Linked DNA regions of Homo sapiens. The protein of the gene in region 1 purifies or fractionates together with the protein of each later gene. This does not show direct contact. Each region holds a gene or a part of one and is shown in the gene's direction. Other genes may lie near its edges. The genes, in order: AAMP, PCDHGB4, DICER1, MKLN1, ASAH1, PDCD4 and INPP5K.

Region 1 (3,509 bases):
GTGGTGGTGAGTTCCAGCACCTGTTCTGCTCAGTCCCGCCCCTCTTTTTTTCCTAGCTGGTCCTTTCAGTGGGCCAGATACCAGAATCACATGCCCCCAGCACCAGGTACCCTATTTTTTTCCTCTGTTTTCTGCCCACTTTTCTTTGAAGGCCATAAAGACTCTGTGACTTGTGCTGGTTTCAGCCATGACTCCACTCTAGTGGCCACAGGGGACATGAGTGGCCTCTTGAAAGTGTGGCAGGTGGACACTAAGGAGGAGGTCTGGTCCTTTGAAGCGGGAGACCTGGAGGTAAGATCATCAGAGCGGGAGTCAGCTCTGTGGGGCCTTGGGTTGTTGGGGGTGCAAGCTTGGGAGGCCAGTTCTGCCTTTATTGCGCCAAGCCAGCTCTGAGCCAATGCGCCCCAAGGCACAGGAAGAATATCTACCTGCTACCTGGAAAGTCCCCGCGGAACCCCAGAGGCAGGAAACCTTGGGTGGAGCTCATGGGGCAGGCTTCTAGGTGGGATGGGGTGACGGGCCTCCCTGCTGCCCCTTCCTCCCTGTCCAGTGGATGGAGTGGCATCCTCGGGCACCTGTCCTGTTGGCGGGCACAGCTGACGGCAACACCTGGATGTGGAAAGTCCCGAATGGTGACTGCAAGACCTTCCAGGGTCCCAACTGCCCAGCCACCTGTGGCCGAGTCCTCCCTGATGGTGAGAGCACCTCCCTTGAGTGACCTTTCCTGGGTGCAGAGGCCGAATCCCGGGATATACACCTCCCAGAGCAGCCTTCTGGGTCACAGCCGGCAAAATCTGAGGCCTGCTGTTTGCAGTGCTGACCTCCTGGGCCCCAAAGTTCACAGCGCCTCCTTCCTGCTCTGAACTCACCTGTGATTCCTGGGGCAGTGTCTGGGCCCTTCCACTCTTCTTTCCTCTCCCTCTCCCCATTCCCTTGCTTAGTGTATGTGAGCGTGCCCTCTGCCCTCTCTTCATCTGTGCCTCTCTTCAGGGAAGAGAGCTGTGGTAGGCTATGAAGATGGGACCATCAGGATTTGGGACCTGAAGCAGGGAAGCCCTATCCATGTACTGAAAGGTATCAGAGGTGGGGGAAGTGTTAGCCTGGGCCTTTGTAGGGAGGGGCTGAGAACCTGGGGCAGGACTCAGAGGGGAGGTAGGACGAAGCCTGAGCTGCCTCCCTGCTCTATGCTAGGGACTGAGGGTCACCAGGGCCCACTCACCTGTGTTGCTGCCAACCAGGATGGCAGCTTGATCCTAACTGGCTCTGTGGACTGCCAGGCCAAGCTGGTCAGTGCCACCACCGGCAAGGTGAGTGGACCTGGAGCCCGGCTGGGGCCTCCGCTTTCCCGACTCCTCTCCTTCCTTCCTGGGTCTTCACTGTCTCCTCTCCCCACCGTCTTTCTCTCCATCAAGCACCCGGATTCCGTGTCCTCCTCTGATCCTCTCTGGCTTTCAGGTGGTGGGTGTTTTTAGACCTGAGACTGTGGCCTCCCAGCCCAGCCTGGGAGAAGGGGAGGAGAGTGAGTCCAACTCGGTGGAGTCCTTGGGCTTCTGCAGTGTGTGAGTGAGGATGGGGAAAGGGGTTTGTGGGAGGGGCCTGGGCTGGGGGCCCGGGAGGACGGCAGGGCGTGTGAGTCCAGGCCCTCATGAGTCTTCATGGTACGCTCCTCTGGCCAGGATGCCCCTGGCAGCTGTTGGCTACCTGGATGGGACCTTGGCCATCTATGACCTGGCTACGCAGACTCTTAGGCATCAGTGTCAGCACCAGGTATGGGCAGCTGGAGCTGGGGTCCCTGTGGGCTGTGTCCATAGTGGTGGGGAAGCCCAGGCCTCCAGGAGCATCTACCCCAGATCTGGCTCCTGCCTGGCCCTTGTGTGTGGCTGTCCCTCTTTGAGAATTGGGAGCAGATGGCTCTCAGCTCTCCTGCCAACCTCCGCCCTGCCTCTGTCATTCCTCGGGGCAGTCGGGCATCGTGCAGCTGCTGTGGGAGGCAGGCACTGCCGTGGTATATACCTGCAGCCTGGATGGCATCGTGCGCCTCTGGGACGCCCGGACCGGCCGCCTGCTTACTGACTACCGGGGCCACACGGCTGAGATCCTGGACTTTGCCCTCAGCAAGTAAGTGAATTGGCCAAGGGCTGGGATCTTTGTGTATTTGGAAGGTGGCAGTAGTATGTAGGGGACACAGGATCCTTGGGGTGTGGGAAGGGATTCCTAAGGCAGGAATGCAGAGAAGCCTGAGGGTTCACAGCCCAGCCCCCATTCCAGTGGCTGACAGTGACCCTCCGGGGCCCCACGTCTCAGTCATGAGGGAGAGGCTGAGACTGATTTTCCCCATCGGAGTCAGCTCTGCTTCTCCCGTGCTGGGGGCTTCCTCTAATCCCCTCCATGCTGGCTGCAGAGATGTCGGCCCAGTGCTAGGCACTAGGGCCCTAGAACTGAGGGTGTGCTGGAGGAGCCCACCCTAGGGCCCCTAGGTGGTGGGCTTGGGTCCCCCAGTCTCTGCAATCACATGCTTTCTGTTTACAGAGATGCCTCCCTGGTGGTGACCACGTCAGGAGACCACAAAGCGAAAGTATTTTGTGTCCAAAGGCCTGACCGTTAATGGCTGCAGCCCCTGCCTGTGTGTCTGGTGTTGAGGGGACGAAGGGACCCCTGCCCCTGTCTGCCAGCAGAGGCAGTAGGGCACAGAGGGAAGAGGAGGGTGGGGCCCTGGATGACTTTCCAGCCTCTTCAACTGACTTGCTCCCCTCTCCTTTTCTTCTCTTTAGAGACCCAGCCCAGGGCCCTCCCACCCTTGTCCAGACCTGGTGGGCCCTTCAGAGGGAGGGGTGGACCTGTTTCTCTTTCACTTTCATTTGCTGGTGTGAGCCATGGGGTGTGTATTTGTATGTGGGGAGTAGGTGTTTGAGGTTCCCGTTCTTTCCCTTCCCAAGTCTCTGGGGGTGGAAAGGAGGAAGAGATACTAGTTAAAGATTTTAAAAATGTAAATAAAATATACTTCCCAGAGACAGAGTCTGTGTGGATTTTGTGATGGCTGGACCCTAGGAGGAGCTAGCGAGGGCCCCGTCAGGGCAAGGCTGTCCCGCAGAATCGGCTGGATGTTGAGATGTGCCAGCTCCCCATCTCCAGGGGTGGTCTGTGCGCACGACACTTCTTGCCTGCCTGGAGTCGGACTCTGCCTTAATCCACGCGTATGTCTGTAGGTTCTTTCTATTGTTGGTGTGTTGAGCCATTTCCTCCTGCCTCGCCCTGAGATATGGAATGAGATAATCATAAACGGCCAGAGGAGCTTTATTCAGTCAGTGCGGGGTCAAACAGAGGCAGGGTCTCTGATCCAGAGAAGTGGGGCCCGGTAGAGACAGGCTGGATGGCTGAGCTGGACGGATGCTCTGGTAGGAGTCAGCAGAGGCCCTTCCTTTAGTTCAAGTCCAGGTCGACACTGCTTTGGCTGCTTGGGTGGTAGGCAATGCTGGGGCCGGGACTGTCCCGGGAGGCTCTTCCCCACA
Region 2 (4,266 bases), on another chromosome or scaffold:
AATTCAGTTGGAAATAACCCAATCTGGGATTAACTACTTCCATATTCTTTTGTATAACATTTTAGTAAAGCTCAGTATATCAAGTGATTGTCATCCAGAAGGGGTGGATGACAAGGTAATCTTGATTCCAGAGACCTTTGAGTATTAATTAAAAACACACTTTTAGCCAGGTATGGTGTTGCAAGCTGTAGCCCACCTGCATGGGAGGCTGAGGCAAGAGGACAGCTTGAACCCAAGAATTGGAGGCCCACCTAGATAATATAACAAGACTCTGTCTCTTCAAAAAAAGACTCTTTTTAGACTAGTGTTGTATTTGGTAGTATTTTGCACATGATAGACTCTGTACAATAGTGTGGGGGATACATTTTTTTTTTTTGACATGGAGTCTCGCTCTGTCACCCAGGCTGGATACATTTTACAAGTTCTGCAGTGTTCACATTTCAGATGTACAATCACTTGGGGTAGAAGACAATGTTGCTGACACCAACAATGTTACTGAGGGAAGATCCTATGGCAGAACTACGGTTATAAGGTATTTTGTAAAAGAAAATCTCCTGACCAAAATTTATTAGATGCATAAAATTGTTTTTAAGCAATGGAGAGACATAATCACTAAACTCAGTGAGCTATTGCAATCAAACTTTCCAGGGATTGTTTCCTTCAATTCAGAGGTCACCAAGGAATGTAAAATAAGTGCAGAGGTAGGAAGCAGTGCTTCAGTGCAGCAGATCTCAGTGACTTTGTGTTTTGAGGCTATGTATTATCCCCCTGATAACTTTGAAGATGAATGTTGTATTTCATAACCAGTAAAATAATTGTGTAATGAGGAGAGGAGTAGGCTACTGCCTGTGATCATCGAAATGAGAATCACATAATATTCCTGTAATGAAATCACTGAAACTATTGGGAAGGGGGTGTATTTGAAGATAAGTATAAATTGCACCTTCTAAAAGGCAATTTTGGTATTACTGATACTCTCCGGAAAAAGTTGAAATAAATCAACTTGGAGGTACTTAGAAAAGTGGAGAAAATGTTAGGAACAATGAAAGAAAGATAAAATGTATCCAGTATATTTCTAATGAGTAAGTATGGAAAATTACTGTACTCTGAGACGGTTTAGGCCAAGTCTGTGTTATGGCTATCTTTATATAGATAGTGCATGTTTGAAGATTGGGGAAAGCTTATGTCAATAAATGTTTATGTACTTAATCTACATGATTTGCCTAAAAATCCTCAAAGTTGGGATGAAGGCATTCCTAAGAGTACATTTTTAGACGTCATTAAATATACAGACGTATCCACGTAGTTTTTGTTCTTTCAGTTAGGCACACAATTATAATTATTGCACTGGTTAACTTGAAGCAGCAGAGGCTGTAGTTTCCTAGTGCTGACTCTGGGCGCCGCTGTTGGCCAAAGTGGAGAGCTTGGCGCTCCAGATCTCCTCGCGCAGCCGCAGCGCGCTTTCCAGGGCAGCCCCAGCTCAGACTCCCCAGCGCCAGCCTTTACACCGCTTCCTCCTCGGAAAAAGAAGAATTTTTTCTTGAACTGGAACTGCAACTAAAGTCCGTTCGGAGATCCAAAAATCTGCAATACAGAGGTTATTTGTAACCCGGCGTCTCCAGGCTGGTGAGCAAGCTGAGGAGAGCAAGAGGGATGGGGAGCGGCGCCGGGGAGCTGGGCCGGGCTGAGAGGCTGCCAGTGCTCTTTCTCTTCCTGCTGTCTTTGTTCTGCCCGGCGCTCTGTGAGCAGATCCGCTACAGGATTCCCGAGGAAATGCCCAAGGGCTCCGTAGTGGGGAACCTCGCCACGGACCTGGGGTTCAGCGTCCAGGAGTTACCGACTCGAAAACTGCGCGTCAGTTCGGAGAAGCCTTACTTCACCGTGAGCGCAGAGAGCGGGGAGTTGCTTGTGAGCAGCAGGCTAGACAGGGAGGAGATATGCGGGAAGAAGCCAGCTTGTGCTCTGGAATTTGAGGCTGTTGCTGAAAATCCACTGAACTTTTATCACGTGAATGTGGAGATCGAGGACATTAATGACCACACGCCAAAATTCACGCAAAATTCCTTTGAGCTGCAAATAAGTGAGTCTGCACAGCCTGGCACACGATTTATATTAGGATCTGCCCATGATGCGGATATTGGTAGCAACACACTGCAGAATTACCAACTCAGTCCCAGTGATCATTTCTCACTGATAAATAAAGAGAAATCAGATGGCAGTAAATACCCTGAGATGGTATTGAAGACACCTTTGGACAGAGAAAAGCAGAAATCCTACCACTTGACTTTGACTGCCTTGGACTTTGGAGCTCCACCCCTAAGCAGCACTGCACAGATACACGTTCTAGTGACTGATGCCAATGATAATGCTCCAGTGTTCAGTCAAGACGTATACAGGGTGAGCCTTTCAGAAAACGTGTACCCGGGGACCACGGTGCTACAGGTGACTGCCACGGACCAGGATGAGGGTGTCAATGCCGAGATTACTTTCTCTTTCAGTGAAGCTAGCCAGATCACCCAATTTGACCTGAACTCTAACACCGGGGAAATTACTGTTTTAAATACATTAGATTTTGAAGAAGTCAAAGAATATTCCATAGTTTTGGAAGCAAGGGACGGTGGAGGAATGATTGCGCAATGCACAGTGGAGGTAGAAGTCATAGATGAAAATGACAACGCCCCAGAAGTGATATTCCAGTCTCTACCCAACCTAATTATGGAGGACGCCGAGCTGGGAACACATATTGCTTTGCTCAAAGTCCGTGACAAGGATTCCAGACACAATGGAGAAGTGACTTGTAAATTGGAAGGTGATGTTCCATTTAAAATATTAACTTCTTCAAGAAACACGTATAAATTAGTGACAGATGCTGTTCTAGACCGCGAGCAGAATCCAGAGTACAATATAACCGTTACGGCAACAGATCGGGGCAAGCCTCCCCTCTCCTCCAGTTCCAGCATCACCCTGCACATTGGTGATGTAAATGACAACGCTCCGGTTTTCTCACAGTCTTCCTATATAGTCCACGTGGCCGAGAACAACCCGCCTGGAGCCTCTATTTCACAAGTCAGGGCTTCTGATCCGGACTTGGGGCCCAACGGCCAAGTCTCTTACTGCATCATGGCCAGTGACCTGGAGCAGCGGGAGCTGTCATCCTACGTGTCCATAAGCGCGGAGAGCGGGGTGGTGTTCGCGCAGCGCGCCTTCGACCACGAGCAGCTGCGCGCCTTCGAACTCACACTGCAGGCCCGCGACCAGGGCTCGCCAGCGCTCAGCGCGAACGTGAGCCTGCGCGTGTTAGTGGACGACCGCAACGACAATGCGCCACGGGTGCTGTACCCCGCGCTGGGTCCCGACGGCTCTGCGCTCTTCGATATGGTGCCGCACGCTGCAGAGCCTGGCTACTTGGTGACCAAGGTAGTGGCGGTGGACGCAGACTCAGGACACAACGCCTGGCTGTCCTACCACGTGCTGCAGGCTAGCGAGCCCGGGCTCTTCAGCCTGGGGCTGCGCACGGGCGAAGTGCGCACAGCGCGTGCCTTAGGCGACAGGGACGCCGTCCGCCAGCGCCTTCTGGTCGCCGTGCGTGACGGTGGACAGCCACCACTCTCGGCCACTGCCACGTTGCACCTGGTCTTCGCCGACAGCTTGCAGGAGGTGCTGCCGGATATCACTGACCGCCCCGACCCCTCTGACCTCCAGGCTGAGCTGCAGTTTTACCTAGTGGTGGCCTTGGCCTTGATCTCAGTGCTCTTCCTCGTGGCCATGATTCTGGCCATTGCCTTGCGCCTGCGACGCTCCTCCAGCCCCGCCTCCTGGAGCTGCTTCCAGCCTGGTCTCTGTGTTAAATCCGAATCCGTGGTTCCCCCCAACTACAGCGAGGGGACTTTGCCTTATTCCTACAATCTATGTGTTGCACATACAGGAAAGACGGAGTTTAATTTCCTAAAATGTAGTGAGCAGTTGAGTTCAGGACAAGACATACTTTGCGGTGATTCATCTGGGGCCTTATTTCCACTTTGTAATTCCAGTGAATTGACTTCCCATCAGGTGAGTTTCCTTTAAGTATAATTTAATGCTCATTGCCTACCCATTTCTCCATATTCACAAGAAAATATACATATTTGCAGGAAAATATATAATTTTTAGATGTCATGGATCATTTTAGGAAAGTTGTAGTCAGTTAAAAAGCTGTCATATCATTCTACAAAGGAGGAGTAAAGTAGGAGCAATTGTGTGGCCCAACATTTGTTTGTTTTTTAGCCA
Region 3 (2,901 bases), on another chromosome or scaffold:
AACATTTGTTTTACTATTACAATATAGTAGGCATACCATAAATGGTATTTCCCCCCTTACTAAAGAAGTAACAAAAGTCATATATCCAAGAAAAGAAACTACATCTGTGGACTGCCTGTAAAAGTGGCCTTTTTGCTTACAAGTCACTTTTCCCTCTGTAATAGCTTAGGAGATCTGAGGAGGATGAAGAGAAAGAAGAGGATATTGAAGTTCCAAAGGCCATGGGGGATATTTTTGAGTCGCTTGCTGGTGCCATTTACATGGATAGTGGGATGTCACTGGAGACAGTCTGGCAGGTGTACTATCCCATGATGCGGCCACTAATAGGTATTGTTGGCTCCCTTTAGAAAGAAAAAAACCCACAAAATTAAAAACAACTTCAGAGATATTATTCATATTATTCTTTCATTTTGATTGCAGAAAAGTTTTCTGCAAATGTACCCCGTTCCCCTGTGCGAGAATTGCTTGAAATGGAACCAGAAACTGCCAAATTTAGGTAAGCAAAAAATGTACATGGAAAAAACATTAACTTAAAAACATCAAAGGGGAAAAGTTCACAAAGATATTGTAAACTAATGATTCTGAAAAATATTTACACTGTGGTGTGCTGTTGTCAGATTTCTGTTTGTAATCTGATTGACTTCTCTTTTTTCCTTCTGTTTTTATGAAATAATGCTGTAATAAAGACTAGACGGCAGCCCTGTCTGTCGGGGGTATGCAATTGCAGTAAGTCGTAACGCGTGTTTCCTTTGTGTGGTGTCAGCTTATACATGGGACTCCTGGCCTGAGAGTGCACACTAAATGCTGATTGACAATGATAATAAATACTTCTGACTTCTAATTCAAGCTGTTTGGATTTTTTACAGCCCGGCTGAGAGAACTTACGACGGGAAGGTCAGAGTCACTGTGGAAGTAGTAGGAAAGGGGAAATTTAAAGGTGTTGGTCGAAGTTACAGGATTGCCAAATCTGCAGCAGCAAGAAGAGCCCTCCGAAGCCTCAAAGCTAATCAACCTCAGGTTCCCAATAGCTGAAACCGCTTTTTAAAATTCAAAACAAGAAACAAAACAAAAAAAATTAAGGGGAAAATTATTTAAATCGGAAAGGAAGACTTAAAGTTGTTAGTGAGTGGAATGAATTGAAGGCAGAATTTAAAGTTTGGTTGATAACAGGATAGATAACAGAATAAAACATTTAACATATGTATAAAATTTTGGAACTAATTGTAGTTTTAGTTTTTTGCGCAAACACAATCTTATCTTCTTTCCTCACTTCTGCTTTGTTTAAATCACAAGAGTGCTTTAATGATGACATTTAGCAAGTGCTCAAAATAATTGACAGGTTTTGTTTTTTTTTTTTTGAGTTTATGTCAGCTTTGCTTAGTGTTAGAAGGCCATGGAGCTTAAACCTCCAGCAGTCCCTAGGATGATGTAGATTCTTCTCCATCTCTCCGTGTGTGCAGTAGTGCCAGTCCTGCAGTAGTTGATAAGCTGAATAGAAAGATAAGGTTTTCGAGAGGAGAAGTGCGCCAATGTTGTCTTTTCTTTCCACGTTATACTGTGTAAGGTGATGTTCCCGGTCGCTGTTGCACCTGATAGTAAGGGACAGATTTTTAATGAACATTGGCTGGCATGTTGGTGAATCACATTTTAGTTTTCTGATGCCACATAGTCTTGCATAAAAAAGGGTTCTTGCCTTAAAAGTGAAACCTTCATGGATAGTCTTTAATCTCTGATCTTTTTGGAACAAACTGTTTTACATTCCTTTCATTTTATTATGCATTAGACGTTGAGACAGCGTGATACTTACAACTCACTAGTATAGTTGTAACTTATTACAGGATCATACTAAAATTTCTGTCATATGTATACTGAAGACATTTTAAAAACCAGAATATGTAGTCTACGGATATTTTTTATCATAAAAATGATCTTTGGCTAAACACCCCATTTTACTAAAGTCCTCCTGCCAGGTAGTTCCCACTGATGGAAATGTTTATGGCAAATAATTTTGCCTTCTAGGCTGTTGCTCTAACAAAATAAACCTTAGACATATCACACCTAAAATATGCTGCAGATTTTATAATTGATTGGTTACTTATTTAAGAAGCAAAACACAGCACCTTTACCCTTAGTCTCCTCACATAAATTTCTTACTATACTTTTCATAATGTTGCATGCATATTTCACCTACCAAAGCTGTGCTGTTAATGCCGTGAAAGTTTAACGTTTGCGATAAACTGCCGTAATTTTGATACATCTGTGATTTAGGTCATTAATTTAGATAAACTAGCTCATTATTTCCATCTTTGGAAAAGGAAAAAAAAAAAAACTTCTTTAGGCATTTGCCTAAGTTTCTTTAATTAGACTTGTAGGCACTCTTCACTTAAATACCTCAGTTCTTCTTTTCTTTTGCATGCATTTTTCCCCTGTTTGGTGCTATGTTTATGTATTATGCTTGAAATTTTAATTTTTTTTTTTTTGCACTGTAACTATAATACCTCTTAATTTACCTTTTTAAAAGCTGTGGGTCAGTCTTGCACTCCCATCAACATACCAGTAGAGGTTTGCTGCAATTTGCCCCGTTAATTATGCTTGAAGTTTAAGAAAGCTGAGCAGAGGTGTCTCATATTTCCCAGCACATGATTCTGAACTTGATGCTTCGTGGAATGCTGCATTTATATGTAAGTGACATTTGAATACTGTCCTTCCTGCTTTATCTGCATCATCCACCCACAGAGAAATGCCTCTGTGCGAGTGCACCGACAGAAAACTGTCAGCTCTGCTTTCTAAGGAACCCTGAGTGAGGGGGGTATTAAGCTTCTCCAGTGTTTTTTGTTGTCTCCAATCTTAAACTTAAATTGAGATCTAAATTATTAAACGAGTTTTTGAGCAAATTAGGTG
Region 4 (2,628 bases), on another chromosome or scaffold:
CCTAGATTTTCTGTGGCATTCTGTAGGACATTGTATTGCTTGGAAAAAAAAAGATCAAAATCATTCTGGGGCAAATGCTCTATTATCCTTATTTATGACAAGAGAATAATGAAATTCATAAGAAATTAATAACATTCAGATATTGCTATAAATGTACTTGAGTCATTTTCATTTGGGGATAGTAATAATGGCTGTGGCAGCTTTAATGGAGAAACCTGTGTTGGCCTCTTTTTCTGGCATTAGGATCTCTTGTCATAGAACTATTGGTAAAGTACAGGTTTGATAGCAGAGTTCCTGAATTCAGCATATCATCAGAATTTCCATTTACCTTTTGTCTTTTCTTTTTATTGTATTTTTTAACCTTTTTGTTTCTATTCCTACCTCCCATGAGTAACATTGATTTCTGCTGAAGTTAGAATTTGTGTTAAGAATTGACTTTAAACTTCTGAAATAGTTGAATATTAGAAGTGGCTTCAGTTGCCATGAAATGATTGCTTTTCTTTTTCTTTTTTTTTCCTTAAATAAAAATAATGCAGCCTTATATATGTCTCTTCCCCTCAAGAATGTGAATTTAGGCTGGGCATAGTGACTCACGCCTGTAATCCCAGACCTTTGGGAGGCTGACACGGGAAGATTGCTTGAGCCCAGGAATTTCAGACCAGCCTGGGCAACACAGGAAGACTCCATCTCTACTTAAAATATTTTTGTTTTTTAGCCAGGTGTGGTGGTATGTGCCTGTAGTCCCAGCTACTTGGGAGGCTGAGGTGGGAGGATCACTTGAACCCAGGAGTTTGGGGTGCAGTGAGCTATGATTGCGACACTGCACTCCAGCCTGGGCAACAGAGCAAGACCCTGTCTCAAAAAAAAAAAAAAAAAAAGAATGTGAATTTAGCTCCAATTCCAAATGACTAACTCTTAGGCCAGTCATAGCCAATGAAATCATCTGACGGTAGCTTCTGTAGCCCTTAACCTAAGGAGTCATTAGAGGTTATAGTAAATTAGTTTCTCTAGTGGTGCAGAGAGAAATGCCATCGGGGAAATTATCACTGTCTTTTTGGCTAAAGTTTTATATTGTGAACTGGATCCCACTTAACAGCTTAAAAACACAAAAATGAAAGGGTAGTCCTAGTTTATCTTCTTAATTAGAATCATTATTTGGAAATAAGATTTGCAATGTGCTGTCTATCCCCAAACACTGCTGAGCTTGCTGGAAAACAGAATTTAACATGAATGTTGTCTGAAAGCTGTAGGATCAATGGCAAAAAAGGGGAAATGTTTGGTAGGGAATTGGACCAGTTCTAAGGTATCACTTTTAATTATAAAATAATGTCTTCCTTTTTATCTGCTTTTCAGACAGCCTCAGTGAACTATTAAACATTTGTGTGCAAAGTCCTATTTTGCTTATCTAAGGCATTTTGACTTGGAAGTATTAAACTTCAGGAACGAGCTAGAGAAGACAATGAGGGTATGTTAGAGAAGGAAAAATAGGAGCTTTTTGCTTATGGATTTTAGAGGTCCACAAATCGAAAGGAAAAATAAATTTCTTCATTTCTAACCCTAAAATAATTTTGTTAATGAGATGCTGGGAAGAAGACTACCAAAAGGCCTCAAAGCTCATGCTTCTAGAATATTCAGTAATTCTGAATAGTCTTTGGGAAGTAGCATTTCTTGGGAAGTAGCATTTCCCTTCTTCCAAATAACTGTTTGAGATCTTAAAACAGAAAATCCAGTGTTAATGGGCTCTAGATCTTAAACTAGGTGAGCAGCTTCTTACATACAACCAGTTCCTTGTTAAGGATCCAGCAGGAAAACCAGCCATAAAACATTTCAACATGCAGTTTGGGGGCTCCCTTGCTTATTCACTGAGTTTAAGCTCTTGCTGCAACATAGCTCTGTACCATCTGGGATGCTAGCAGTCACAGCAGTTAGCTCAGATATCTGAGCTGTCTGCCACACAAAGCCTGAGGAGATCATCATTCTTCAGTTTCATTCATTACTTAATGAATGCCAAATTAATTGGCAGGAAGAAGAAACACTGTGTGATATACTGAACAAGCCTGTGTGCATGAATAAGGAGCCACTCAAAAAGCCAATTTTGAGCTTTATTTCTCCGTTGTTAACAAATCTCAAGAAAGCCTTTGTTACAGTTTAGCTCATGTCATTTGGTTGGTTTTATTTTCTAGCCCTTTAACATAGGAGGAAAATTGTCATTTCATGTATAACTTGTAACACAGAATTGAACTGATACTAGTTTCCTTGCCTTAAATTAATTATATGTCATCCCAAGGGTCTCTGTTAATTCTGCTTTGCCAAGCAATAATGAGATCTGGGTTTGGCATTAGAAGTATTTCATAATTTTGGTTTTTTATTTAGGTTTCCTCCACATCTGTAAAGTGATTGATTAAATTAGAGGAGGCGTGTAGAATAAATCCCAATCCCATTGCAACTGGCAGAGCTTTATAAATCTTTATAAATTCAGTTACAACAAAGGAGAGGATCCTACACCATTAGAGCCATGCCATCAGGTGTTTGCAAGTGACAGCTGTAGTGTGTTGCCTCAAATAATACCAAGTTATAAATAATACCAAGTAATTATCAACTCACTCCCAAATTTAATAAGATATCAAA
Region 5 (3,500 bases), on another chromosome or scaffold:
GTTTTCATTTGGGGTGTATGTTAAATTTCAGGTGGCAGAGAGGCATCCAGCAGGCCACTCGGACTGGCACTCAGAAGAGAGACACTGAGAGTCACTGGCATAATGATATTATATTTGAAGCCCTTGGAGCAGATGAACTTACCTAGAAATAGGATAGAGAAAGAGAAGAAAAGAGAACTAGGCAAAGGCTAAGTAACTTGCACATGTATGTGTCAAGAAGAGGAGAAATTGCCAAAGTTAAAACAGGACAGGCCGGGCGCGGTGGCTCATGCCTGTAATCCCAGCACTTTGGGAGGCCAAGGTGGGCAGATCACGTGAGGTCAGGAGTTTGAGACTAGCCTGGCCAACATGGAGAAACCCTGTCTCTACTAAAAATACAAAAATTAGCTGGGCATAGTGGCTCACGCCTGTAGTCCCAGCTACTCAGGAGGCTGAGGCGGGAGAATTGCTTGAACCTGGGAGGGAGAGGTTGCAGTGAGCCAAGATCCTGCCATTGCACTCCAGCCTGGACAATGAGCGAAACTTCGTCACAGAAAACAAAAACAAAAAAATAGGAGAGTAAGTGGAACAGGAAGCTCAGGGAAGAGACTGGGACAGGTTAACTATGTTGAATATTATTGAGATGTCAGTGGTATTATGATGTTGGGCAACTGGAGGTCATTGGTCACCTCGACTGGAGCAGTGTTGGGGGCAGAAAACAGCTTGCGGTAGGCTAAGTGTGATTGGCAGGAAAGGAACTAGAGGGGAGAGATGGCTGCTCTGCGTAATAAATCTGACCCACTTCATAAGATGTGCGAAGATGAAACGTAATGGCTTAGTAATTAATTGCCAAAGTAAACTTGTAAACTCATTTTTATGCATCAGCTTCTCATACTAGTTAACAGCGTATGTCAACATTGTTGACATTAGCTATTGAATCAGCTTTAGCAATGATTTTCACGCAGTTGCCAGAAATCTCATAGACCCCATCTGGCCTAGGAATTTATTGCACTTCATCTGCTTTTCCCTACTTCTCCCAAAGAGGGAACACACAGGTGTAATCCATTCACTTATTCAACAAATACTGCTTGCCTACTATGTGCCAGACTCCTAAACGCTGGGAATGCGTCAGCCAATGAGATAGATGAGGTCCTTCCTCTCATGGAGGGTTTATTCACATTCCTTTGACCTAAATATCAGTAGCTTAATAGGATGCCATCCCATCAAAGCCCAGAAGACAAGTGAAAACATTTTCAAGCTCATGTGAATTCTTGTACACGTAGGAAACATGCCTCTTTGTATTCAGTGTTTCTGCTGAGTTGTACATAAGAGGACATTATAGGAAAAACTTGTCTGCAAAATAGTTGTTGATGAATTCAAGAATTGAATGAATGAAAAATTGTCTGGCTAGAGTTGTTTGGCTTCTGGTGGGTATGAAAACTGACATGAGGTATGTAATTTTAGATTATCCTTCATTGTCTCTTTCTGAGTATTTCAATAAGACAAGCACACAAGGGCTTTCTGGACTTTTAAAATTCACTATTAGAAGCATACATTATTTCATTGAGGGTCTCCTAATTCTTTCGGGCTCAAATATTTTAAGGAGCTGTACAAGTTATGCCATTTTTTAAGGGTATGGCGCTTTCATTGAGACCTTAATGTTCTCTTTATATTTTTGTGTTTTTTTTAGAATGTTGTGTTCAGTAGCTCTGTAATTAATTTCTCTTAATGAATGGGGAGGACATTCAAAGAGGCTTAAGTTTCTATCAAATAACCAGAAAAATTAGAGAATTTTCTGACCCAAACAGTCTTTTAAAAGCACTTTCCAGAGAGTTTTTTGTTTTTTTTTTTTTTCTGAGATGGAGTCTTGCTCTGTCTCCCAGGCTGGAGTGCAGTCACACTATCTCGTCTCACTGCAACTTCCACCTCCCGGCTTCAGGCAATTCTCCTACCTCAGCCTTCCGAGTACCTAGGATTACAGGCACATGCCACCCAGCTAATTTTTGCATTGTTAGTAGTAACGGGGATTTCGCCATGTTGGCCAGGCTGGTCTTGAAGTCCTGACCTCAGGTGATCCACCCACCTCAGCCTCCCAAGGTGCTGGAATTACAGGCATGAGCCACCATGCCTGGCCCAGAGAGTTTCAAATGCATTGAAATATCAGATTTTTACCACTTATCTTCACTCTTAGGAGACCACTGAGGGGCAGGGAGAAAGGTAGGGAAGGGCAGGGAGAGAGAGAGAAAGAGAGGTACTGTGGGGAGAGGGTTAGAGAGAATTGATTCTAAGTTGGATTTTGTTTCCTGTGATAGGGTGTACATAGTATACCATCCAGACCACATAATCTCTCTTCTTATCATCTGTTTCTAATCTTTACCTATCATCTATTTAAGTTTTTACCTGCCTTAATAGAGTTGTCTGTTATTAAACTGTTTATAAACTTGGGGATAGTAAGGAACTTTAAATAACATTAAGTAAGTTCATTATAATTCTGTTTTAGGGCTACTCGTGGGTTTTGAAGCTGTGTCTCCCTGTAGAATTCTTTTTTGAGGGGGAGGAAGTAGCTCTTTTTTCCACCCTACCCCTAAAACTAACCTTTTTGCATAAACGACTTAGGCGTTCATGCCATGTGAGCCCCTGAAATACTGTAGTCTCATAGCTGCCAACTTTCTTATTTTCTGTCACACTTATCCTATTTCCTTGCAGCCAGGTTCTATGCCAATTTCACGTTTGTTTATTGCTACCAAGAGTCGTTATCAACCTCAGACTCACTCCACATGTATTGTTGCTAGCTTGCTCTTTAGTTCTTACCTCTGGGGCAGGTCACATTCTCTCCTAATACTAGACAGAGCATTTTCAACTTTGCTCACAGTTGTCTAGTAAGAAATGTGCCTGTAATTTGATGTTTATTTTGGCTTTGGAACCCAGGGCGTGCAAATGTCATTATTAGGAAGGGATAGGAGTCATTACGTTTCACTTAATTTGCCGAGTTGATTCTAGTGATCACCAGAAGCCCTGAACTACGCGCAGATTATTCTGTTAGGAATTAAATTGAGGCATTGGTTTTATTATCTCTGTGGGAAGCTGTTTGATAGAACAGGGAAAGCCATTGACTCTGATTCTGTCACCAGCTGTGTAACTTTCTACAAGTCACTAATGGAGCAGGGTCTTAAGTCCACAACATGATCATAAAATTAAGCACTTGGGTTAAGTACCCATCACAGTATTCCCAACTCATAGGAAAACAATGGTCAGATAAACAAGAAAATGTAAAGCGGAGTATCTCCTCACAGCAGAACTTATTTACAAATTTTACAAAGTAAAATTAAGTTGCAACCCCTATAAGTCTCTAAGTAGCTCATTTATTAGCAAAATAAGGAAAGCCATTTACCAATGGTGGATTACCTAAATTGTATTCGATTGTAGTAGCAGAAGTATTGTGTCCAGGGAAAATGAAATTATTTTACATGTCATTGAGAACCCTTGTCCTGGACTTTGGGAAGAACATCAATATCAATTAA
Region 6 (3,500 bases), on another chromosome or scaffold:
TCTGGACCAGTTTTGTGGTTCACCTTAATGGCACAATGATGAAAGCACTATGTTACAGGTAGATGTTTAATGTTTTTCTCAACCATCCACTCTTACACGAAAATGTCATCTAATTTATGTGATCCTGATCTTTCTGTCCCCTTCCACTTAATCATTTTTGTTTATCTCTCTTTACATTCACGCCCTTGTTCGTCTCTTTAGCTGTCAATACTCTGCTGTATTCTAGTTTTGTATTTTCTGTAGTTATATGGGATTAAAAATGTGGGTTTGAATTCTAGCCATAATCCTTTCTAGATATGTAACTTCTTGTGAAACACATTCCTTCTGTAAAATGAGGATAAACAGTTTCTTTCTAGAGCTCTTGAAGCTTATAGACCACATATGTAAAGTGCCTTAGCTAATAGGTACCAGGTAGTGTGGAATCTAATAGGTACCAGGTAGTGTGGAACCTGGTATCTAATAGATGACAATAGTAATGGTAATGATGAAAGAAACAGTACTACGACTACTTCCACTAAGACTATAATTACTACTGATGGTTATGATGATGTCCCAAACACACCATCCTAACACCGGCTTCTTACCAGTTTGAAAACTTTTAAGGCATTGTTTGACTTCTCTTTAATCCTAGATACATTCTGCTTAAAAGTCCTTCATTATTTTCTTTAAAAGTGTAACATTATTATTTATCCCACAGTTACTACCCTTGCTCTTTACCAGTTAGCTTGTGACTGAATTACTGAAGCATTTTCTTAGCGGTTTCCTACTTTATACTTTCTCTTTTTGTAATATACTCAGTATTCTTCTGCCAAATGAATCCCTCCCATCTCTTCCCTATGATATCTAACTTAAGCTCTGACAATTTGAGTGTGGGAGTAGTTAGCAGTGATTCTGGTGAGGTAAGCAGGGGCAAGATCATAAAGGACCTTAAGTTACAAGGTAAAGAGTTTACATTTTGGCTGGGTGCGGTGGCTCACGCCTGTAATCCCAGCACTTTGGGAGGCCGACGTAGGTGGATCACGAGGTCAGGAGATCAAGACCATCCTGGCTAACACGGTGACCCCATCTGTACTAAAAACACAAAAAAATTAGCCAGGCGTAGTGGCAGGCATCTGTAGTCCCAGCTGGGGCAGGAGAATGGCGTGAACCCGGGAGGCAGAGCTTGCAGTGAGCTGAGATTGCACCACTGCACTCCAGCCTGGGTGACAGAGCGACACGCTGTCTCAAAAAAAAAAAAAAAAAAGTTTACATTTTTTGTGACATAATGGGACTACTTTTAAAGGATCTTCAGTGAGGGCATGCTTGAGAAAATCAGTCTTCATTCAGTATAGTTTGAAGACTGGAGGCAGGGAGACTACTTATGAGACTAGTGAAATAATTTGGCTCTAATTGATGATTTTGTTTAAAACAAAACATTCCTACCTTCCTAAGTATGTCAAGAATTGTAAAGATTTAAACACATGTATGCTTTTTATAGGTTGGTGAAAATTTTTGGTTTCAACATGTCTTAAAACATATTAAAGCCCATGCACATAGACCTGACATGTTATAATTATCTTTAGGCATATAGAAAATGATTTGAGTGATTCAGCTCTGATTTGCGTTAACAATAATGAACAAAACTGTGGCCCAGTGGTAGCTAATTCAGTAGCCTTTCTGACTTAAAGAGCTTTCAGGGCAAAGCCAAGTGCCTCCACTTGATCTCCATGGAATTTGAGTATGAAGGACACTCTGCTAGGTGATGGGGATACAAAGAAGGACATACAGTCTAGTTGTGGTTTCTCCTTTGAAGCTTATGACTTAGTTGGAAGAAAAAGACTGCTATATAAAAAGAAAGTGATTTCCATGACGTGTTGAATGAATAGTATGTGAGCAATTAGTGTTCCTGTACCTAGAGTTGTAAGGGAAGTTTTAATGCAGGGAGTAAGACTTGGGCTATATCCTAAAGGATTTTGATAACTGAAAATAACAGTGAGGGCGACATTCTACTGGGAACTCCAGTATGTTGATCTCTTTCAGAAGAATCAATTTTATATAGGCTGGAAGATTTACAGGATGGTAAGTAATAGGAGAAAAGTTTAGGGAGATGAATTAGGACTTTGAGATGTTGGCTTTTCTTGAAAGCAAACTTTGTCTTGAGGCAGTAAAGCATCAGCAGTTCAGCTCAACAATCATATGCGATTATTTGCTAAATGCCTTTCATTCTCTTTTGGATTACTAATAGTTCTTAAGTGTTTATACCTAGTTATGGGACGTTTGGCAAATCATTTAAACATTCTCAGCCTTAGTTTCCTTATCTGTCTTCAATGTTATAATAATTAACTGCCAAACTTGTGCATAAATAAATGATAGAGTGTCTAGCACAGTGCCTAATAGTAGGCATTCTATAAATATTAGTTTATCTCTCTTCTCAAGATGCTTTGTCTTTTCTTAATATCTCCAATTAGCTCATAAAAGTCTAAGGGTTTTATATTTGGTGTTGCTGTTAGCATAGATTTTATGATCTAAACGTGAAATAACATGCTTCTTTTGGTAAAAACAAACAAATTTGGTTTGTTTTTGGTAAGAAACAAACATGCTTTGTTAAAATTCAGTGCCTTGGTTTACTTTCCTTGATAATGTGAAAAGTAATCTTATTTAGTTGTTTATTAGATTGAAGTAGATGAAATTCCCAATATGTGACTGTAATTTACCTACAAAAATGGTAATGTCATGTGATTCAACCTAATCTAACTTACCACTATATCTATAAAACAGTAGATACTTAAAATACTTAGAATTTTTTTCTTCATTTTTCTCTTTAAGATCCTGATAACTTAAGTGACTCTCTCTTTTCCGGTGATGAAGAAAATGCTGGGACTGAGGAAATAAAGAATGAAATAAATGGAAATTGGATTTCAGCATCCTCCATTAACGAAGCTAGAATTAATGCCAAGGCAAAAAGGCGACTAAGGAAAAACTCATCCCGGGACTCTGGCAGAGGCGATTCGGTCAGCGACAGTGGGAGTGACGCCCTTAGAAGTGGATTAACTGTGCCAACCAGTCCAAAGGGAAGGTTGCTGGATAGGCGATCCAGATCTGGGAAAGGAAGGGGACTACCAAAGAAAGGTTGGTATATATCATGTCCAACAAATGGAAGATAAACAAGTGGAAAAAAATTGTCTGGTTCTTGTACTACACTTTCCTTGTTCTAGGAATGAGAGAGATTCAAAAAGTGAAAATGTAAGGCTTTACAGTTTGTATATATTTTTACTTAGTAATAATGTGAGAACCATCTCACTTTTTCTTTAGGTTGATGTTTTTTCTTGTTTGAGTAGATTTAATTTTCTTGAGCAGAATGTTAACGATTTATTTCCAGCAAAATATACACTGATGTTTTTCACTGTTACGAGTTTTACGTATATTCTCTAAGTTTGAAAGGAGTCAGAAATCCATCATACTTATTTAATATAATTATGTCCATTACTACTACTAATAAATATACATTTGATTGATAACGT
Region 7 (3,500 bases), on another chromosome or scaffold:
GGGGAAGTAGCCTGGAGGCCAGGGGCCAAGCCTCTGAGCTGGCATGGTCAGTTTGCAGGAATTGAACTCTGGGATCATAAGCCTCCTTTCCGATGCTGCCTTTAATGACTCGTGGAGCAGTTTCCTCATGGATGTGCTTTCCCCTCTGAGCTTCATCAAGGTAACTTGCCAGTTCATTGGCACTTGACAACTGTGTTTTCACATCTCCACTGACCCCTGCTTGTTGGGTCTGATGTGTTCCTCTTACTCCTGCTCAGCCTTTCATGCTGTTTCCCATTTGTTTAAAGGGCTAAACCTCCCTTCCACCTGGACCCCGGGGCCCCTGCCTGCCTTCGCCTTTCTGAGGGAGCTGGAGTCTCCAGGGGTTGGGTTAACACCTGGATATGTTTCAGCTTGGGAAGATTCTGAGGGGAGGTGCAGCAGGGCTTGTCATCACCTCAGTGCTGGCCGCTGCCCCAGCCACCAGTCTCTACTCAAATGCCCATCCTGAAGTCTCTGAGTGTAATCATACGGCTGTCATTTATCAAGTGCTTACTTGTTGTTACACATCATAAGTAGCTCTTTATAGTATATATGTTATTTTAAAATCTTAACAAGTCTGTTGAAATAGAGATATTTTACAGAGAAAACCATGGCTCAGAAGCCACATGCGCTATCTGGGATTTGGATCCAGATCTCTCAAACTTCATAACCCAAGTTCTTAACTACTAATACCTTATTGCTATGCTGGTGAACTCTAAGACTGACAGATCTTAGGCGTGGCTAGCCTGCTGGTGTCATAGGGTATCCTCAGGTCATACGGGACGTGCACTTCAGATTCTGGGGGTCCAGAGGTTAGGAGAGGGGAGTCAGGTGTGGTGGGTACTTTGGGCGGCTTTCTTAGTCTGAGAGACCAGTATACTCTGGGGTGTCTTTAGACAGTAGGAGAGTCCACAGGAAGGCCCTGGGTTGCCAGATCTTCACCTTCACCTTGGTTCTGCCCTGCACACCTGAGGAATGAAACACACTCCCATTCACAGCACCTGGTATACAGCTGCTTAGAAATACCAGAATTCCCTCTTTCCCCTTCCTGGATGACTCTTGTTCTTCAGAATGGATTCTGTCAGCCTAGTTTGCCTGGGGGTACTGAGGCAAGAGCTGTGTGTCCTTTGGAGGGGGAGCAGAATGGGGAGGAAAGAATCTAAGGTTTAGAACTCCTGCTGAGGATAGAAAACACCAGCCCGAGTCCTTGGTTCCCTCCACATCAAACCCAGAGGCCTCCTTCTGTAGATAGGGAGCTAGATCCTTACAGAGGACACAACCACTTCTCTCTCACCCGCCACTCCCTTCCCAAGACTGCAGGCCTCCTTGCTTCTCGGCTGACTGGCAAAGGATTGGTAGGATGGAATTGAGCCAAGGAAATTAGCTCAACTTGTGGCAGAGACACAGCCCTTTCTACCCATGTGGCCTACTGAGATTGGGAGGCCAGACTGAGGGCCTGGCACCCAAAATGAATGCCCTTCTTTCCCCAGCCAAGAATCAGGGTGGATGGGTGAGCTCCGTGCATTTGCCAGCTATAGACTGAGAAGGGCTGACCCCCTTCCACTGCTCCAGGGCCCCCAGCCACCTCCTGCTAGTCCTTTCTTCGCTCCTCCTACTTCATTTCCTCCAACTAGAACTTTCCCTAGAACTCTCCTGCTTTTCCCACAGCCCCACCCTTTCTCCCAGTCTAACTCTGTCCTGCCCCGACCCCACCCTCCCCGCCCCCACTTCCCTGCTGCTCCTTCACAAAGCGAGCCAGTGTCTTTGTGGTGGAACCCAGTGGCCTAAAGCTGCTTTGTGGGTGGGGATTAAGCCTGAAACTTTTCCTGAGTCTTTATCAGTCCCCTTGCTTCAATCCTGACCCTGGGAGTCAGCCCCTCATGGTCCAGCCCGTCCTCCATCCCTGTTGGCACGTGTGCTTGGGTGTAGGAGAGAGAAGACTGGGGAGGAAGTAGGCTTGAGGACACACCTGTAGCAACCTCTGGCCCACCTGAAGTTCTGATGCCTCCCTTACCCAGTGCTGGGTTTGAGGTTCCCCCTGCTTCGACTCCGCTATGCCAGGGCTCGTGGCCTGCAGGATCAAGTTTCATAATTCCTGGAAGGCCCCAGTACACGCTCCCCACCCGGGGATTTCCTCCTTGGCCTCCACACTTCATTCTCCGGAAACGGCTCCTCGGGTGCCGGTGGTAGACAGCCTGAACCTGAGAGGGAGAGCTACTGGCTGCGGCCCATTCCCACCCCACCTTTTGCAGCTGCAGATAGTAGGGATCTTGGCAGTCCTAGCCCTTTGATGTTGTTTTACAATACAGGTAGCCCTACTGGTTCCTTAGCCTCCCTAAATCTTAGTTCCTCAACTACAAAACAGGGACGGTGATTCCTTACAGGCTTGGCAGGAGTAAATGAGAGAGGAGGCACTTGAGCAGATGTTAGCTATTCTCCCTAGCCTGTGCACATGTGTCCTTACCCACTGGCATTCCATGGGCGTTGCCTTCATGGACACCCAGCTGCACGCAGTATATAGTTATGGGGTTTGGGGGGAGCATTTTCTTATTTTTTTTTCACTGAGCTATAATGTACACAGAAAAGCATGCAGAAATTCAGTGTACACTTTGATGGGTTTTTGCATATACCCATGTTACCATCAGCCACATCTAGATAAAGAGCAGGCCGAGTACAGTGGCTCATGCCTGTAATCCCAGCACTTTGGGATTATAGAGGCAGGGAGATTGCTTGAACCCAGGAGTTCAAGACCACCCTGGGCAATATGGCAAGACCCTGTCTCTACAAAACAAACAAAAATAGCCGGGCATGTTGGTGCACACCTGTGGTCCTAGCTACTCAGGAGGCTGAGGTGGGAGGATTGCCTGAGCCCAGGATGTCAAGGCTGCAGCGAGCCGTGATTGCACCACTGCACTCCAGCCTGGTAGACAGAGCGAAATCCTGTCTCTAAGTAAAAAGGGAGGAATGGGGGCAGCTGGTGGATAAAGAACATTTCCAAGGAGAGAGGGAGGAAGGGAAGGGGATAAAGAAGAGCATTTCCCAGTATCCTGGAAACCTCTTATGTTCCTTCCTTTTAAGAATGCTTGGCCGGGCGCGGTGGCTCACGCCTACAATCCCAGCACTTTGAGAGGCCAAGGCAGGCAGATCACCTGAGGTCGAGAGTTCAAGACCAGCCTGGCCAACACGGTGAAACCCCATCTCTACTAAAAATACAAGACCTGGTGGTGGGCGCCTGTAATCCCAGCTACTTGGGAAGCTGAGACAGGAGAATCACCTGAACCCAGGAGGTGGAGGTTGCAGTGAGCCGAGACCACGCCATTGCACTCCAGCCTGGGCGACAGAGCGAGACTCCGTCTCAAAAAAAAAAGAATGCTGAAACCAAAAAATAATAGCTTTCAGATAATCCCCACAGCATCTATGAGATGGATTCCTACTTTATCAATGAGAAAATACACTGAGAAACTGCCTCAATGTCAAAT

The links.
Region 2: the proteins of AAMP (region 1) and PCDHGB4 purify together in Homo sapiens (co-immunoprecipitation; one large-scale study listed by IntAct). This does not show direct contact.
Region 3: the proteins of AAMP (region 1) and DICER1 purify together in Homo sapiens (affinity purification with mass spectrometry, with the first as the bait; one large-scale study listed by BioGRID). This does not show direct contact.
Region 4: the proteins of AAMP (region 1) and MKLN1 purify together in Homo sapiens (affinity purification with mass spectrometry; one large-scale study listed by BioGRID and IntAct). This does not show direct contact.
Region 5: the proteins of AAMP (region 1) and ASAH1 purify together in Homo sapiens (affinity purification with mass spectrometry; 3 studies listed by BioGRID and IntAct, with this or other methods). This does not show direct contact.
Region 6: the proteins of AAMP (region 1) and PDCD4 fractionate together in Homo sapiens (co-fractionation; one large-scale study listed by BioGRID). This does not show direct contact.
Region 7: the proteins of AAMP (region 1) and INPP5K purify together in Homo sapiens (affinity purification with mass spectrometry; 3 studies listed by BioGRID and IntAct, with this or other methods). This does not show direct contact.

What each region holds. Positions count from the first base shown.
Region 1 is NC_000002.12:218,263,629-218,267,137, reverse strand, and holds the end of AAMP (angio-associated migratory cell protein), read left to right. Parts: intron 1-151; coding exon 152-291; intron 292-550; coding exon 551-695; intron 696-990; coding exon 991-1,074; intron 1,075-1,191; coding exon 1,192-1,307; intron 1,308-1,455; coding exon 1,456-1,559; intron 1,560-1,676; coding exon 1,677-1,767; intron 1,768-1,963; coding exon 1,964-2,118; intron 2,119-2,529; coding exon 2,530-2,605; 3' UTR 2,606-3,009; downstream 3,010-3,509. Other genes in the region: GPBAR1 (G-protein coupled bile acid receptor 1), read right to left, coding at 3,421-3,509. UniProt on the Homo sapiens protein: Plays a role in angiogenesis and cell migration. In smooth muscle cell migration, may act through the RhoA pathway.
Region 2 is NC_000005.10:141,386,232-141,390,497, forward strand, and holds the start of PCDHGB4 (protocadherin gamma-B4 isoform 1 precursor), read left to right. Parts: upstream 1-1,466; 5' UTR 1,467-1,653; coding exon 1,654-4,050; coding exon of another isoform or gene 4,051-4,065; intron 4,066-4,266. UniProt on the Homo sapiens protein: Potential calcium-dependent cell-adhesion protein. May be involved in the establishment and maintenance of specific neuronal connections in the brain.
Region 3 is NC_000014.9:95,088,629-95,091,529, reverse strand, and holds part of DICER1 (endoribonuclease Dicer), read left to right. Parts: intron 1-164; coding exon 165-327; intron 328-420; coding exon 421-496; intron 497-866; coding exon 867-1,032; 3' UTR 1,033-2,901. UniProt on the Homo sapiens protein: Double-stranded RNA (dsRNA) endoribonuclease playing a central role in short dsRNA-mediated post-transcriptional gene silencing.
Region 4 is NC_000007.14:131,491,876-131,494,503, forward strand, and holds part of MKLN1 (muskelin), read left to right. Parts: 3' UTR 1-2,628. UniProt on the Homo sapiens protein: Component of the CTLH E3 ubiquitin-protein ligase complex that selectively accepts ubiquitin from UBE2H and mediates ubiquitination and subsequent proteasomal degradation of the transcription factor HBP1.
Region 5 is NC_000008.11:18,077,608-18,081,107, reverse strand, and holds part of ASAH1 (acid ceramidase isoform a preproprotein), read left to right. Parts: intron 1-3,500. UniProt on the Homo sapiens protein: Lysosomal ceramidase that hydrolyzes sphingolipid ceramides into sphingosine and free fatty acids at acidic pH.
Region 6 is NC_000010.11:110,878,428-110,881,927, forward strand, and holds part of PDCD4 (programmed cell death protein 4), read left to right. Parts: intron 1-2,805; coding exon 2,806-3,108; intron 3,109-3,500. UniProt on the Homo sapiens protein: Inhibits translation initiation and cap-dependent translation. May excert its function by hindering the interaction between EIF4A1 and EIF4G. Inhibits the helicase activity of EIF4A. Modulates the activation of JUN kinase.
Region 7 is NC_000017.11:1,510,113-1,513,612, reverse strand, and holds part of INPP5K (inositol polyphosphate 5-phosphatase K), read left to right. Parts: intron 1-51; coding exon 52-160; intron 161-3,500. UniProt on the Homo sapiens protein: Inositol 5-phosphatase which acts on inositol 1,4,5-trisphosphate, inositol 1,3,4,5-tetrakisphosphate, phosphatidylinositol 4,5-bisphosphate and phosphatidylinositol 3,4,5-trisphosphate.